4 linked regions of the Homo sapiens genome follow. The protein of the gene in region 4 purifies or fractionates together with the protein of the main gene of each other region. This does not show direct contact. Each region holds a gene or a part of one and is shown on either strand. Other genes may lie near its edges.

Region 1 (3,500 bases), on a different chromosome or scaffold from region 4:
AGAATCTATAATGAACTTAAATTATTCAACAAGCAAAAAACAAATAACCCTATTAAAAATGTAGGCAAAGGGCATGAGCGGATATTTCTCAAAAGAAGACATACAAGCAGCCAACAAACATGAAAAAATGCTCCACATTGCTAATCATCAGAAAGATGCAAATCAAAATCACATTGAGATACTATCTCACACCAATCAGAATGGCTATCATTAAAAAGTCAAAAAAAAAAAAACAGATTTGCAGAGAAAAGGAAATGCTTATACACTGTTGGTAGGAATGTAAATTGGTTCAGCCACTGTGGAAAGCAGTTTGGAGATTTCACAAAGAACTTAAAAAACTACCGTTCAACTCAGTAATCCCACTAATGGATATATACGCAAAGGAATATAAATAATTCTACCAAAAAGACACATGCACTCCTATGTTCATCACAGCACTCTTCACAATAACAAAGATGTGAAATCAACCTAGATGCTCATCAATGGTGGACTGGATAAAGAAAATGTGGTACATATACACCATGGAATACTACACAGCCATAACAAAGAACAAAATCATGTCCTTTGCGGCAACATGGATGCAGCTGGAGGCCATTATCCTAAGTGAATTAACAGAGGAACAGAAAACCAAGTACCACATATTCTCACTTATAAGTAGGAGCTAAACAGTACACATGGACATAAAGATGAGAAAACAGACAGTGGGGACTAATAGCGAGGGAAGGAAAAAAAAGGGGGTGAGGGTTGAAGAACTACCTTTTGGGTACTATGCTCACTACCTGGGTGATGGGATCATTCATACCCTAAACTTCAGCATGACACATATACCTATGTCATAAACCTGTTCTTGTATCCCCAAACTTAAAATAAAAGTTGGAAAAAAAAGAATCCATTTCATCCAGGCTTTCTAATTTATTGGCATATTTTTATTTTAATTACCATTAAATTCTTTTAATTTTCTCCAAGTTAGTGATGTTTCCATTTTACATTTCTTTCCTTGTACACGTAGGCTTTCTTTATTTTGCTTTTTAAAAGACAAAAAGCTGAATAAAATGCACAGTGATTTTTGTTTAAGAGAGAAATATCAAATGGAAGGGGAAAGCAACAGTAAAGTAGGAATAAGGGAAGGAAGAAGAAAAGGGAAAATGATGAAGAGGAAGAAGATGAGGAGGCAGAGGAAACAAAGAAAAAATAAGGGGAAAAGAGAGAAAAGAAAACAGTATAAAGGCAGAAAGGATACAAGATGACCTATCTGGCCAAATGTGGGCCAATGTTGCCTAGATTGGTGCTACTCAAAGTAGCTGGTCTATGAACTGTTACTGGTCCTCAGTGAGATAAGGAGCTTATGCCAATATGCAAGTCTATGTATTCTTTTGCTTCCTTCGTCAGAAAAGCTTTGCTATGAAAAAATAATGATAATCTCCGTTGAACTAACAGTGTGCTTGGTGAACAGTGCGCTTATTGACATATTTGATTTACATCATCGTGTAGTTTTTGTCTTATCAGAGGCAGGTAACAGTTTGTGGATGGGCACCAACCAGCAGTAGCACCAAACTTGATCCTTCACCAACCAGGCCTCTGATGAACTGCATCTGTCCCTCATCTTATTGAGGTTCTCCAGCTAGTTTCATGGCCTCAGTCACTGTTTTAACCTTCTAGATCTTGGGCACTATCAGACATCTAGATGGGCAGTTTAACCCATATTCAAGAAAGTTCAACACACATAGGCAATCAGTAAATATTGATTGATTTAATAGTTAATGACTGAATGATCAGGGCTAATGTGTGTACAGCTCGCAGTTAATGAACTAAACAATTTACACTTCGCCTAGGGTCAATGACACTTGAAATTGGCAGACACTCTGCTCCCAAGTTGTGTGCCCCAGTGCAAAGCTGTGTTATCCAGATAAAACAGAACTGTTTTCTTCTCCCATGCCATAGGTTTGCACAGAGAGGCTTCCTTTTTCTAATTTACAGAAAAACTATATTAGGTTAGCAGCATCCCTGTGAATCACTCAAACGCAAGGAATTTGACTGAAAATTAGCCTCAGTTATACAGCTGCTCAATCAGTATTAAACTCATGCTGTATGTTCTAAATGACAGAAGGTAGAGCCATTCCAAAAGTATGGCAAATTGGAATGACAGCTGCTTGACACAAGAATGTTCTTCACCTGGCTTTTTTTCCCTCTCTTCATTTTTTTCAAACACTGACATAGTTCATCTGTCAAAGAAATGGGAGACTGTTTTTAACTACAATGTACATCTGTAATCAGTATAAAGGGTAGCTTTACATCTCAGTTTAGACATCCTTTCCTTCAGGAAGTTTTCCTTGATCTTCCAAGTCTGGGGTCAGGTGCTCTTCCTGTTTCCTATAGTAGTAATCTTTATTTTCCATTCTGCAGCATTGAACACTACCCCGTAGTTAGCTATTGGCATTTCCATTTGCCAAAGCATATTATTCCCTACTGTATTTTGAATGCTTAGCACAGTGCCAGCACATGGCAGGAGACAGGGCTGGGAAGTGAAGGAAGAACAGAAGCAAACAACCTGCAGCAAATTATCATTTTTAGACATCAATTAAATGTTCTCCTCTTTGCAAAAGCCAGAGACAAAAGGCCACCCAGAAATAGATCTTTATCCAATAATGGGCCCTCTGACTGCTCCTAGATAAAGACACACCCTAAGACATTGCAATGGACTTAGCAAAGCACAACCTACCTCTGGACCAATTTTTGTAAGCAACTCAGATAATTTCTAGGAGAAATGAGGCAAAACATTGCTCTCTAAAATTCACAGAGACACCTTTCAGGGTAGCTCCGACAAAGGCCCATAGAGAGAAAAGTGCAACAAGACCACTAATAAAAAAATTACCTGGAGGAAACGGGGAGTCTAGGCTCTAAACTTTGACTTAAAGAACGCTCAGAATTTCCTATAGACTCTCTTTTATATTCTCAATGCCCGCCTCAGCCTCCCAAGTATCTAGGATTACAGGTGCCCACCACCACGCCCAGCTAATCTTTATATTTTTAGTAGAGATGGGGTTTTGCCATGTTGGCCATGCTGGCCTTGAACTCTTGACCTCAGGTGATCCTCCCAAAATGCTGGGATTACAGGCATGAGCCACTGTGCCTGGCCCCATATAGACTTTTCTTAATCATATTTCTGTCACTTGCTGTCTTTGTGATCCCATACAAGGTGCTTTTTATCCTTGAAGCTCAGTGATTGCTAAAGGAGGAATATTATTTTCTTCCCCAAGTAACTGGGAGACTTAAGTGTGTTTCTAAAAGAGAAAAAGGCAGATACCCAGTAAGTACTCAAAAAATATGCCAACATTTCCAACACACACACACACACACACACACACACACACACGCGCGCGCACACACACACACACACGTCACAGGAACAGGATGCAGTTTGGTCTACAACAAAAGCTTAGTGTATACAGAAAAGTAACTGGATCCCTGCCATTTTTTATTTACTCACAGAAGAAGTCAAG
Region 2 (3,500 bases), on a different chromosome or scaffold from region 4:
GAGAGGAGGACTTGGTATATGTGCCGATGGTTCCGCGATGGGTCCCATTGCTGGGAATGGGTAGCCGGGTTCCTTGGTCCACCTGGCTAGTTTTTGGGAGGAGTCATGCCTTCTCAGGTGTCAATGAGCAGGCTCACCACTGAGCGGATTTTGCAGGCAAACCATCGCCTGAGGGGACAAAAGTATTGATAGTGGAATTGTTCAAACTCGGGGGTCTGGCGGATATCACGGAAAAAGGCAATGTCAAGGTCAGACTCGGTAAGGATGATCAGGAGGAGGAGCAAAACAAAGAGGAGTCCCATGGTCACAAGGAGCAAACGGAGGACACTTAGAACAAACTTATTCACCTGTTCCTCCTCGGGCCCGCTGTGCCCCTGACACAGGGCCCTCAGCTCTCCCCCAAGGGCCTCCACCTCTGTAGCAGTTGGGGTGCTGGCTTCAGATTCCTTCTCCTCCTCAATGCTGCAGGTGGCTCCATTGATCTGCCGGGAAAGCAACATCAGCTCCAGGCTGTGCTCAGCCACAGGGGTGGGCAGCACGCTGTCTGCAGGGCTGTAGGCCTCGTCTGCAATCACAGCTACTCGCTCATTGCTATCTGTCCGGCTGCTTCTCACGTGAGGCAGGAAGGTGTCCCCATGGGAAGTGGAACGCACTGGTGTGGAATGGGCACTGTCCCGTAAGGACTCTAGGCCTAGAAAGGCAAAAGGAACATGAGTAGGCTGTGTCCCAATGCACCCTTTGCTTTCCAGTAGCACCCATTGTGTTTTATTGGGTACCATTCTGCACACCCACATGACCAGCAGCAGTAGCCACTGCACTCTATTTTGATATATCGAGAAGACGACAGGCCGGGTATGGTGGCTTACACCTGTCATCTCAGCACTTTGGGAGGCCGAGATGGGTGGATCGCTTGAGGTCAGGAGTTCCAGACCAGCCTGGCCAACGTGGTGAAACCCCATCTCAACTAAAAATACAAAAATCAGCCGGGCCTGGTGGCACATGCCTGTAATCCCAGTTACTTGGTGGGCTGAGGCAGGAGAATCGCTTGAACCCGGGAGGCGGAGGTTGCAGTGAGCTGAGATCGCACTATTACACTCCATCCTCGGCAACAGAGTGAGTAAGATTCCATCTTAAAAAAAAGAAAAAGGCTGGGCGTGGTGCCTCATGCCTGTAATCCCAGCACTTTGGGAGGCCAAGGCGGGCGGATCATGAGGTAAGGAGTTCGAGACCAGCCTGGCCAACATGGTGAAACCCCGTCTGTACTAAAAATACAAAAATCAGCCACGTGTGGTGGCGGGCATCTGTAATCCCAGCTACTCAGGAGGGGAGGCAGGAGAACTGCTTGAACTTGGGAGGCAGAGGTTATAGTTAGCAGAGATCGTGCCACTGCACTCCAGCCTGGGTGACAGAGCAAGACTCTGCCTCGGGGCGAGGAGGAAGCCAGGTGTGGTAGTGCATGCCTGTTGTCCCAGCTACTTTGTAGGGGGGCAGATTGCTTGAGCCTGGGAGGTCAAAGCTGCAGTAAACCAAGATCACACCACTGCATTCCAACCTGAGCAACAGAGAAAGACTGTCTCAAAAAAAAAAAAAAAATATATATATATATATATATATATATATATGTATGTATGAAACAAGAGAAGGCACAGAAATCACAGTGGCCATTTTAGAAGAGTTTTTCTTTGCTTTTTGCTTACGGTTTTGGCCTAGTTTGTGTGTGTTTTGAGATGGAGTCTTACTCTGTCGCCCAGGTTGGAATGCAGTGGTGCAATCTCAGCTCACTACAACTTCTGCCTCCCGGGTTCCAGCGATTCTTGTGTCTCAGCCTTCTGAGTAGCTGGGAATACAGGTGTCTGCCACCACACCCAGCTAATTTTTTTATTTTGAGTAGAGACGGGGTTTTGCCATTTTGGCCAGGCTGGTCTAGAACTCCTGGCCTCCCAAAGTGCTGGGATTATAGGTGTGAGCCACCGCACCCAGCCCCTAATTTGTTAAAGATTCTGCCTTTCTTGCCTTTGGTGTCCTGGGCCTAGTTTTTTTTTTTTTTTTTTTTTTTCTTTCAGTCTTTCATATGATTTTATTTTCTTCCTTCAACCATAATAATATGATATCCAAATTTTGTCTTAACTGCTGGGTCTGTAAACACAGGCTTATCCATCACACTTATAGGCAAGGCAAATGCTGCTTCTTGAAATGGTCCCACCATGGACCCTCTGGTCATCCAACCCAAGACGCCCCCTTGCCTGGCTTTATCTTCACTATATTGTGTGGCCACTTCATTGAATCTCATCCCAGACTTTAACTTTTCCATGGCTTCCATGATTTTGCCATGTTTTTCCCATAGAATGTGTCTGACCTTTACTGCATTGCCACCACCTTTGGGACCTTGAGCCTTCTTGTCAGCACTGTCACTCCCAGAGGCTGCACCCCCTTTCCCCGCTTTTCCAGAACCACTTTTTCCTTTGGGCGGCATCTTGGAAGCTTGTTGTTGAACTCTGAACTCTGGGCCTGGTTTTTACCCCAGTTTGAAAGAATCTGAATTCCAAACTACCCCTGATGCAGAGCTGGGACCACGGTTTGAGTCTCAAGTCTGCCTGTTGGGTGGAGGGCTTTAAGAGGCAGGAATGGGCCAGACACGATGGCTCCCATCTGTAATCCCAGCACTTTGGGAGGCCAAGGCAGGTGGATCACTTGAGCCAAAGGGTTCAAGACCAGGCTGGGCAACATAGACACTGTAACTATAAAATTTTTAATAAAAGAGAGGTAGGAATGGGGAGAAGGGGAATATGTCATGCCTAACTGGGTTTCATCAAATACCGAATATCCTTGTAAAAACCCAGCATACAGCATCTTGAGCTTATAAGGTCAATATTTTTGGATTTCTGCAGCTGCTCTCAGTCTCTTCAGCCTCCGTTCTAGCTGTTCTGACTTTGTGGAATGATGGGGTAGAAACTCTCTCTGCTCTTCTTGAGGGGGCATGGGAGTAGTCCCTGGCCAGCTCCCTCTCTTTTCCTCTGAGAAGGAGCTGGGTCTAGAATAGGCTGAAAAGCTCCCCTATCTTTAGACACTTCAGAGCACAAAACAGTTTGAGAAGATCTTGTTGCGGGGGTGGATTTCTCTTACATTTGGTAGGAGGAAGGGGTATTCTATCCCCTAAAACTACCCATTATCTCTTCTCTCTTCCCAAGGTTCTCACAGGACTCAAGCCCTGGCAGGGAAAACAGGAGCTGGTTACACTCTCAACTGAACAGCAGCCACCCAGGCCAGAGGCTTTGGGCATATAGTGAGTGAGCGCGGCCCCCATCACAGTGCTCCCAAGGAAATGGCTTCTTGTTTTAGGCTCAATGTCTGCATTTTCCACTCCTGGCCATCTTGGTGATGCTGGTGTGGTTCTCTCTGCCTTTGTGACCTATGACAAGAAAAGCCAGTCCCCTTCTGTTGCCCTGAAATAGTCCCTGACAATCCCAGACTGAACCAGATTCCCAGCTCAGTAAAGGTTT
Region 3 (2,411 bases), on a different chromosome or scaffold from region 4:
AGCTGGCTGCCTTGTGGTTCCCAGAGCACCAGCGAGCCACGGCCAACATGCTCGCCACCATGTGTGAGTTCCGGGGAGGGAGGCCGCCTGCCTGGGCTCACCTCAGGGTCCACACAGACGCTCGGCTCCCCAGGCTCTCTGGCCAGGGTGGAGGAGCTGGGGCCCGGAAGGTTCTGCCTGTGGGCTGGCGATGAAGCCAGGCCACAGCCGAGCTGACACTTTGTGCATCCGCCCACCCAGCGAACCCTCTGGGCGTCCTTGTGGCCAATGTGCTGTCCCCTGTGCTGGTCAAGAAGGGTGAGGACATTCCGTTAATGGTGAGGGGTCATGAGACGCCCGTGCCTGGTCTGTGTGGTGTGTGCGCATGCACGTCTGTGTGTTCCTGATCCCAAGTGTGTCCGTGTTCCTGTGCCCGTGTGTGATTCCCGTCCCCCGCCCCGCCACCCGAGAAGGAGTCTCAGCCTGTCGCTCAGGCTGAATTGCAGTGGCGCGATCTCGGCTCACTGCAACCTCCGCCTACTGGGTTTAAGCAATTCCCCTGCCTCATCTTCCCGAGTAGCTGGGACTACAGGCGTGCGCCACCATGCTTGGCTAATTTTTTTTTTTTTGTATTTTTGGTAGAGTTGGGGTTTCACCATGTTGGCCAGGCTGGTCTCGAACTCCTGACCTCATGATCCGTCTGCCTCGGCTTCCCAAAGTGCTAGGATGACAGGCGTGAGCCACCGCGCCCGGCCAGTGTGTGATGTTTCTATGCCTGCCTGTGTGTATTGAGTGTGTGTGGTGTGTGCGGTGCGTGTCTCTGTTCCTGTGCCCATGTGTATTGTGTGATGTGTGCATATGTGTCTGTGTGTCTGTGCACATGTGTGGTGTGTACCTGTGTGTGCTCGTGCATGTGTATCAGGTGCGGGTGGTGTGTTTGTGCTTGGGGGTATGTACTGAGCGTGAGTCTGTATGCACGTGTGCCTCTGCACCCACCTGTGTCTGTGTGTTGAGCCCTATCATGGGCTGTGCAGCTGGCAGTGAGATGTAAGTCTGGAGCCTGGGGGTGCTGGGCTAACATCAGCCAGGAGGGTGTCACTGGTGAGGGATGCGTTGACAGCCAGGGGTCCCCATGAGCCCCTGGAGCAGGCCCCTCCCAGCCTGGGCCTCGCAAAGGGCAGCTGCAGACCAGAGGTTGGGAGGCAGCCGGTGGTGGGGCAGGAGGAGCTGGGAGGTGGCGCCTGGGACAGGCAGGGCTGCGGCGTGTGTGGGTGCCAGTCTGCGTGGTCTCCTTGTGCACACACACCCCTCCCCAGCTCGGTGTCTATACCATCCCTGCTGGCGTCGTCTGCCTGCTGTCCACCATCTGCCTGTGGGAGAGTGTGCCCCCCACCCCGCCCTCTGCCGGGGCTGCCAGCTCCACCTCAGAGAAGTTCCTGGATGGGCTCAAGCTGGTCAGTGCCGTGGGATCCCCGGGGTAGGGTGGATTTGGGGGTGGGGGCAAGAGGCTGAGGAGGCGATGGGTTTGGGAAGGGCCCCCGGGCTCCGGGGCTGAGACGCTCTTTCCCAGCAGCTCATGTGGAACAAGGCCTATGTCATCCTGGCTGTGTGCTTGGGGGGAATGATCGGGATCTCTGCCAGCTTCTCAGCCCTCCTGGAGCAGATCCTCTGTGCAAGCGGCCACTCCAGTGTGAGCCTGGCCCCACCCCTGGGGACCCTGCCTCTGTCATCCGCCCCATATGGCCATGGAGTCACCGCCGCCTCCAGGGTGCCCAGTGTCCGACCCTGGCGGGGGCCACATTGACACCCTTCTGTGCTGTGGGCCCTCCCGAGATGCCCTGTGTGACATTATGTCCACAGGCAGTGGAGGTGGTGGGCACAGCTGCAGTGGGGTGGGGCAGCTGTGGGACGGAGCGGAGGGACTGACGGTGCCCTGTGGATGGGAAGGTGGGGCCCCCAGGGCTCCCAGTGCCCCTTCCCAGCAAGGCCCCGCCCCTGTGGGTCTGCAGGACAGCGCCACCTTCTGGTATCCAGACGTGCAGCGGGGAGGGCCTTGCTCTGCTCGCATATCTCCGAGCTGGCCCTCTGCCCTCTGCCTTCTGGGATCAGTGCTCAGTGTAGGATTGGGGGCATGTTTCCACCTTTGCCAGGGCCACAGGCACCACGGCCCTGTGGGGCCTCTGTGGAGACAGGCTCTTCCCTTTAGCGATTGCTTTGCTCTGGGGTGGGGTGGGAAACACAAGGCAGGAAACCCTACCCCGCAGGCAGCCAGCGGTGCGTCTGGAAGCTGTGTTGCTATGCCTGGGCCTTGGGCACAGCACACGGCCCTACACTGAGCCCCCTGCCCTGACGGCATGCACCTAGGATAATGGTGGCCTCTTGGGGCCCTGGCCTCTTCTCGCCTCCTCCAGGGGTTTTCCGGCCTCTGTGGC
Region 4 (3,981 bases):
GTTTCCTGATTTCATTATATATTTCTTATAAGGTTTTCATTAGGCTTTTGTTTTTGTTTTTGGTTTTAAATAAAAACACTTTATTGCACAAATCCCACAAAGGTCTCAGGCCCTGGGTCCAAGCCCACAGCCCCAACCTGTCCCCTGGCTCTGGGCCTGGTCTTTGGTGCCCACCCTGGCCTCACATGCCAACGTCTTCTGTGGAGTGTGCAGGTGTCCATGAGCGTTCCTGTGTTGGGGGAAGCCTGCCTGGGCCACAAGTAGTCAGGCACTGTGGCAGCCTCACGATGAAGACAGGTGGGGTGGAGTTGGGTCCCCACCTGCCCAGGCTCAGGGGCCACAGGGGTCTACACAGTCCTTTCTGCTTTGAAACACGTGGTAGATGCTGGTGGGAGGGAACATGGCACCGGCACCAAGCAGGGAGCCCACTTGGATGGCCACACCAGCTGCCAGCAATGCCGGCCGACCCCCACCATGCAGCAGGGAGCTTGCAGCCACCTTCACATATGAGAACACACACAGACACAGCACCCACGACAGCACCTGCAAGGGAGGACACAGCAGCAGGCTGAGCATGACATGCACTTGCTCCAGGGGACACCCTCCTCCCCACTTCATGTCTCCACTTGCTCACCACAAGGACCACCCCTGCAGTGGTGCCCACCAGGGGTGGGCAGGGGCTCAGGATTGCCAGTGCCATCAGGTAGGCCCCAAAGAGCATGCCCAGCAGAGAAAGACCAACCAGCCCTGCCAGGGACCTGTTGGGGATGAGCAGAGACTCAGGGCTGGCTGTTCTGGGACCTGGACCCCAACCTTAAGTTCCACCCACCAAGCCTGGGGACCCTTTTGCACCTGCACAGCACGCCCATGGCCAGGAAGCAGGCAAGGGGGTTGGCGGCACTGCCCAGCACCACAGCCAGGTGGTAGGCCAGGCGCCCATAGGGCAAACAGGAAAAGCTCTGCACAGAAGGCAGCACGCCATTGGTCACGGCACTGGTGAAGGCCATCAGGCCCAGCAGGAAGGCACCATGGGCTGAGAACAGCTGATGGGCCTCAGGGTCTGGGCCAGGGATGGTGCCTGCTGCCTGGCTCGGTGGCTCCTGCAATGGCAAAGCCTCTTCTTCCTCCTTCTCTTCCTCCTCTGCTCCTGGGGATCCCAGTTGAAGTTCAGGCCCTGAGCCCCCTGTGGTTACAGAGGGTAGTGATGGCAACAGCAACAGGAGACCCCGGAAGGCGGCAGCTGAAGTGACCAGAAGGGCAGTCAGTGCCCAGAAGAAGGTGCTGGCAGGAAAACGCTCAGGGAAGTCGAGGGGAGGCCCAGAGGTGCCATTGGTGGGCGCTGGTGGGCACTCGAGGCGGCCCACACCTTGCACTAGGGCCAGCACACAGGGGAGTAGGGCACTGAGACCCTGACCCAGGAAGAAAGACCGTAAGAAAGGAGGTGGCAGGTGGCTCAGGAAGGGCAGGAAAGTGACATTAGAGGTACAACAGGCCATTGCCAACACCAAGGCCAGAGTTAGGAAGGCCACAGAGTGGAGCTGCCCTGCCACTGGGGCCACGTGGTGCCACAGAGGGGCCAGCAGGGCTGTGCCCACTACACTCAGCACCTGTACCACCTGGATGGGGACCTGCTCGCCCTTGCCCGGGGCCAGCTGCCTCCACAGGGTCACCACCAGCAGACCCAGGTTTCCCAGCGCCACAACCACAGAGAGGTATGAGGGGAGGCTCCAACCTGCAGGGAAGGAATGATGCCATGTCAGGAGCACAGTGGCTAAGGGACAAAGAGCTGCCACAGGCCACCTTTCTGGGCATACCTGCCCCACGCTTCCCTGTACCTCCCTCCCACTCACCCTCTGGAAGGTCTTTTACCACCACAGGCAGCTCCACCCAGATCCCGTTCACAGCAGCCCAGGAGCCCATGCCAAAAAGGGCCACCAGCAGGTGGGTCAGCACCAGACGGCCCAGCGTGGGTGCTGCCATTCAGCCCAAAGCTGGACCCTCCAGGACAGGGCAAAGGTCACAGGCAGGTCCTTCCCTAGGTAGGTCCAAAGATGCTTTGGTTCTTCTGGAAACTGAAGACCTTCTAGCTGGAGGGAAACAGACAGGCTGGCAGGTAATAGGCTGGTGGGACAGAACCGGAGTCAGAAGACAAGTCGGTCAGACTGCTAAGACCAGGGCAACTGGAGGGAGAGGTGGCCGGGGGCGGGCGGGGAAGGTGGGGAGCCAGGACTTACCACGGGGCACCGGCTGTGCGTTTGGGTACAGCGACCCAGCAGTGCCGGCAGGCAGACAGGCAGAAAGCTGGCCCGAGGTGCAGCTGCCCCAGAGGAGCAAAGAGGGAGCTGATTTTCCTACCCACAGAGGACCCGGGGTCCAAGTTGTCAAAACAGCTCAGCACTGGCCGGGTGCGGTGGCTCACACCTGTAATCCCAGCACTTTGGGAAGCTGAGGAAGGCAGATCGCCTGAGGTCAGGAGATTGAGACCATCCTGGCCAACATGGTGAAAACCCGTCTCTACTAAAAATACAAAAATTAGCTGGTCGTGGTGGTGGGTGCCAGTAATCCCAGCTACTCAGGAGGCTGAGGCAGGAGATTCACTTGAACCCGGAAGGTGGAGGTTGCAGTGAGCCAAGATCACACCACTGCATTCCAGCCTGGGCGACAGAACGAGATTCGGTCTCAAAAACAAAACAAAACAAAACAAAACAAAAAAACAGCTCGGCACCAACACGCTCACCCTCAAATGGACCCCGGGACAAGGGCACGTCTCTGGTGCCACTTGCAACCCTAGCGCTTTTGCGACACTCAGGACTTGCTGAGGCAGGTCGAGTTGGAGAGGGGAGTGGCTGGGGCGGGCTCTGCCCGGAGGGGCGTCTCCGTGCTGCCCTCCCGCCTGCCTCAGGGGGGCATCCCGGGAGCCGCCAGGTGCGCAGGGGTCCCCGCACCTCCGGATCCGGCAGTCCCCGGACCCAGCGGCTGGCGGTCTGCCTGAGAGGGAGCCCCCTCCGCCGGGGAGGCGGCCCAGCCCAGAGCCCACACAGCTGGGGTTTTGTTGTTTGTTGTTTTAATTAATTAATTAATTTTGAGACGGGGTCTCACTCTGTCACCCAGGCTAGAGCGCAGCGGTGCGCGATCGCGGCTCACTACAGCCTCAACCTCCCAAGCTCAAGGGATCCTCCCACTCAGCCTCTCCCCACCCCCCCACAAGTAGCTGGGACCACAGGCGAGCATCACCATGTCCAGCTAATTTTTTTTTTTTTTTTTTTTTTTTTTGGTAGAGACAAGGTCTCACTATGTTGCTCAGGCTGGCTTGGCACTCCTGGGCTCAAGCAATCTTCCTACCTCAGCCTCCCAAGTAGCTGGGACTACAGACGCACCACACCTAGCTACCGCCACGCTCAGCTGTTTTTACACTTTTTTTTTTTTTTTTTTTTTTTGAGACGGAGTTTTGCTCTTGTTGCCCAGGCTGGAGTGCAATGGCACGAGCCTCTGCCTCCCGGGTTCAAGCCATTCTCCTGCCTCAGCCTCCCGAGTAGCTGGAATTACAGGCGCCCACCACCATGCCCTGCTAATTTTTGTCTTTTTAGTGCACAGGGTCTCGCCATGTTAGCTAGGCTGGTCTTGAACTCCTGACCTCAGGTGATCCACCTGCCCCGGCCTCCCAAAGTGTTGGGGATTACAGGCGTGAGCCACCGTGCCTGGCCAGCTGTTTTTACACTTTTAAATGGTTGAAAAAAAATTAGCTGGACGTGGTGTGCACACCTGGCTAATTTTTGCTTTTTTTTTTTTTTTTTTTTTTTTTTGAGACGGAGTCTCGCTCTGTCGCCCAGGCTGGAGTGCAGTGGCGCGATCTCGGCTCACTGCAAGCTCCACCTTCCAGGTTCACGCCATTCTCCTGCCTCAGACTCCCGAGTAGCTGGGATTACAGACGCCTGCCACCACGCCTGGATAATTTTTGTATTTTTCGTAGAGATGGGGTTT

Evidence for each region. Proteins that work in one complex are often made in the same cells at the same time.
Region 1: the proteins of SLC52A1 (region 4) and COL14A1 purify together in Homo sapiens (affinity purification with mass spectrometry; one large-scale study listed by BioGRID and IntAct). This does not show direct contact.
Region 2: the proteins of SLC52A1 (region 4) and FRMD5 purify together in Homo sapiens (affinity purification with mass spectrometry; one large-scale study listed by BioGRID and IntAct). This does not show direct contact.
Region 3: the proteins of SLC52A1 (region 4) and SLC49A3 purify together in Homo sapiens (affinity purification with mass spectrometry; one large-scale study listed by BioGRID and IntAct). This does not show direct contact.

Annotation. Positions count from the first base shown.
Region 1 is NC_000008.11:120,128,102-120,131,601, reverse strand, and holds part of COL14A1 (collagen alpha-1(XIV) chain isoform 1 precursor), read right to left. Parts: intron 1-3,500. UniProt on the Homo sapiens protein: Plays an adhesive role by integrating collagen bundles. It is probably associated with the surface of interstitial collagen fibrils via COL1.
Region 2 is NC_000015.10:43,873,772-43,877,271, forward strand, and holds part of FRMD5 (FERM domain-containing protein 5), read right to left. Parts: exon of another isoform or gene 2,035-3,500; intron 692-2,034; coding exon 114-691; 3' UTR 1-113. UniProt on the Homo sapiens protein: May be involved in regulation of cell migration. May regulate cell-matrix interactions via its interaction with ITGB5 and modifying ITGB5 cytoplasmic tail interactions such as with FERMT2 and TLN1.
Region 3 is NC_000004.12:683,741-686,151, reverse strand, and holds part of SLC49A3 (solute carrier family 49 member A3), read left to right. Parts: coding exon 1-63; intron 64-240; coding exon 241-317; intron 318-1,295; coding exon 1,296-1,433; intron 1,434-1,549; coding exon of another isoform or gene 1,550-1,552; coding exon 1,553-1,669; intron 1,670-2,390; coding exon 2,391-2,411.
Region 4 is NC_000017.11:5,032,627-5,036,607, forward strand, and holds the start of SLC52A1 (solute carrier family 52, riboflavin transporter, member 1 precursor), read right to left. Parts: upstream 2,801-3,981; 5' UTR 2,235-2,800; intron 2,122-2,234; exon of another isoform or gene 2,088-2,121; 5' UTR 1,981-2,087; coding exon 1,851-1,980; intron 1,733-1,850; coding exon 853-1,732; intron 759-852; coding exon 635-758; intron 544-634; coding exon 331-543; 3' UTR 1-330. UniProt on the Homo sapiens protein: Plasma membrane transporter mediating the uptake by cells of the water soluble vitamin B2/riboflavin that plays a key role in biochemical oxidation-reduction reactions of the carbohydrate, lipid, and amino acid metabolism.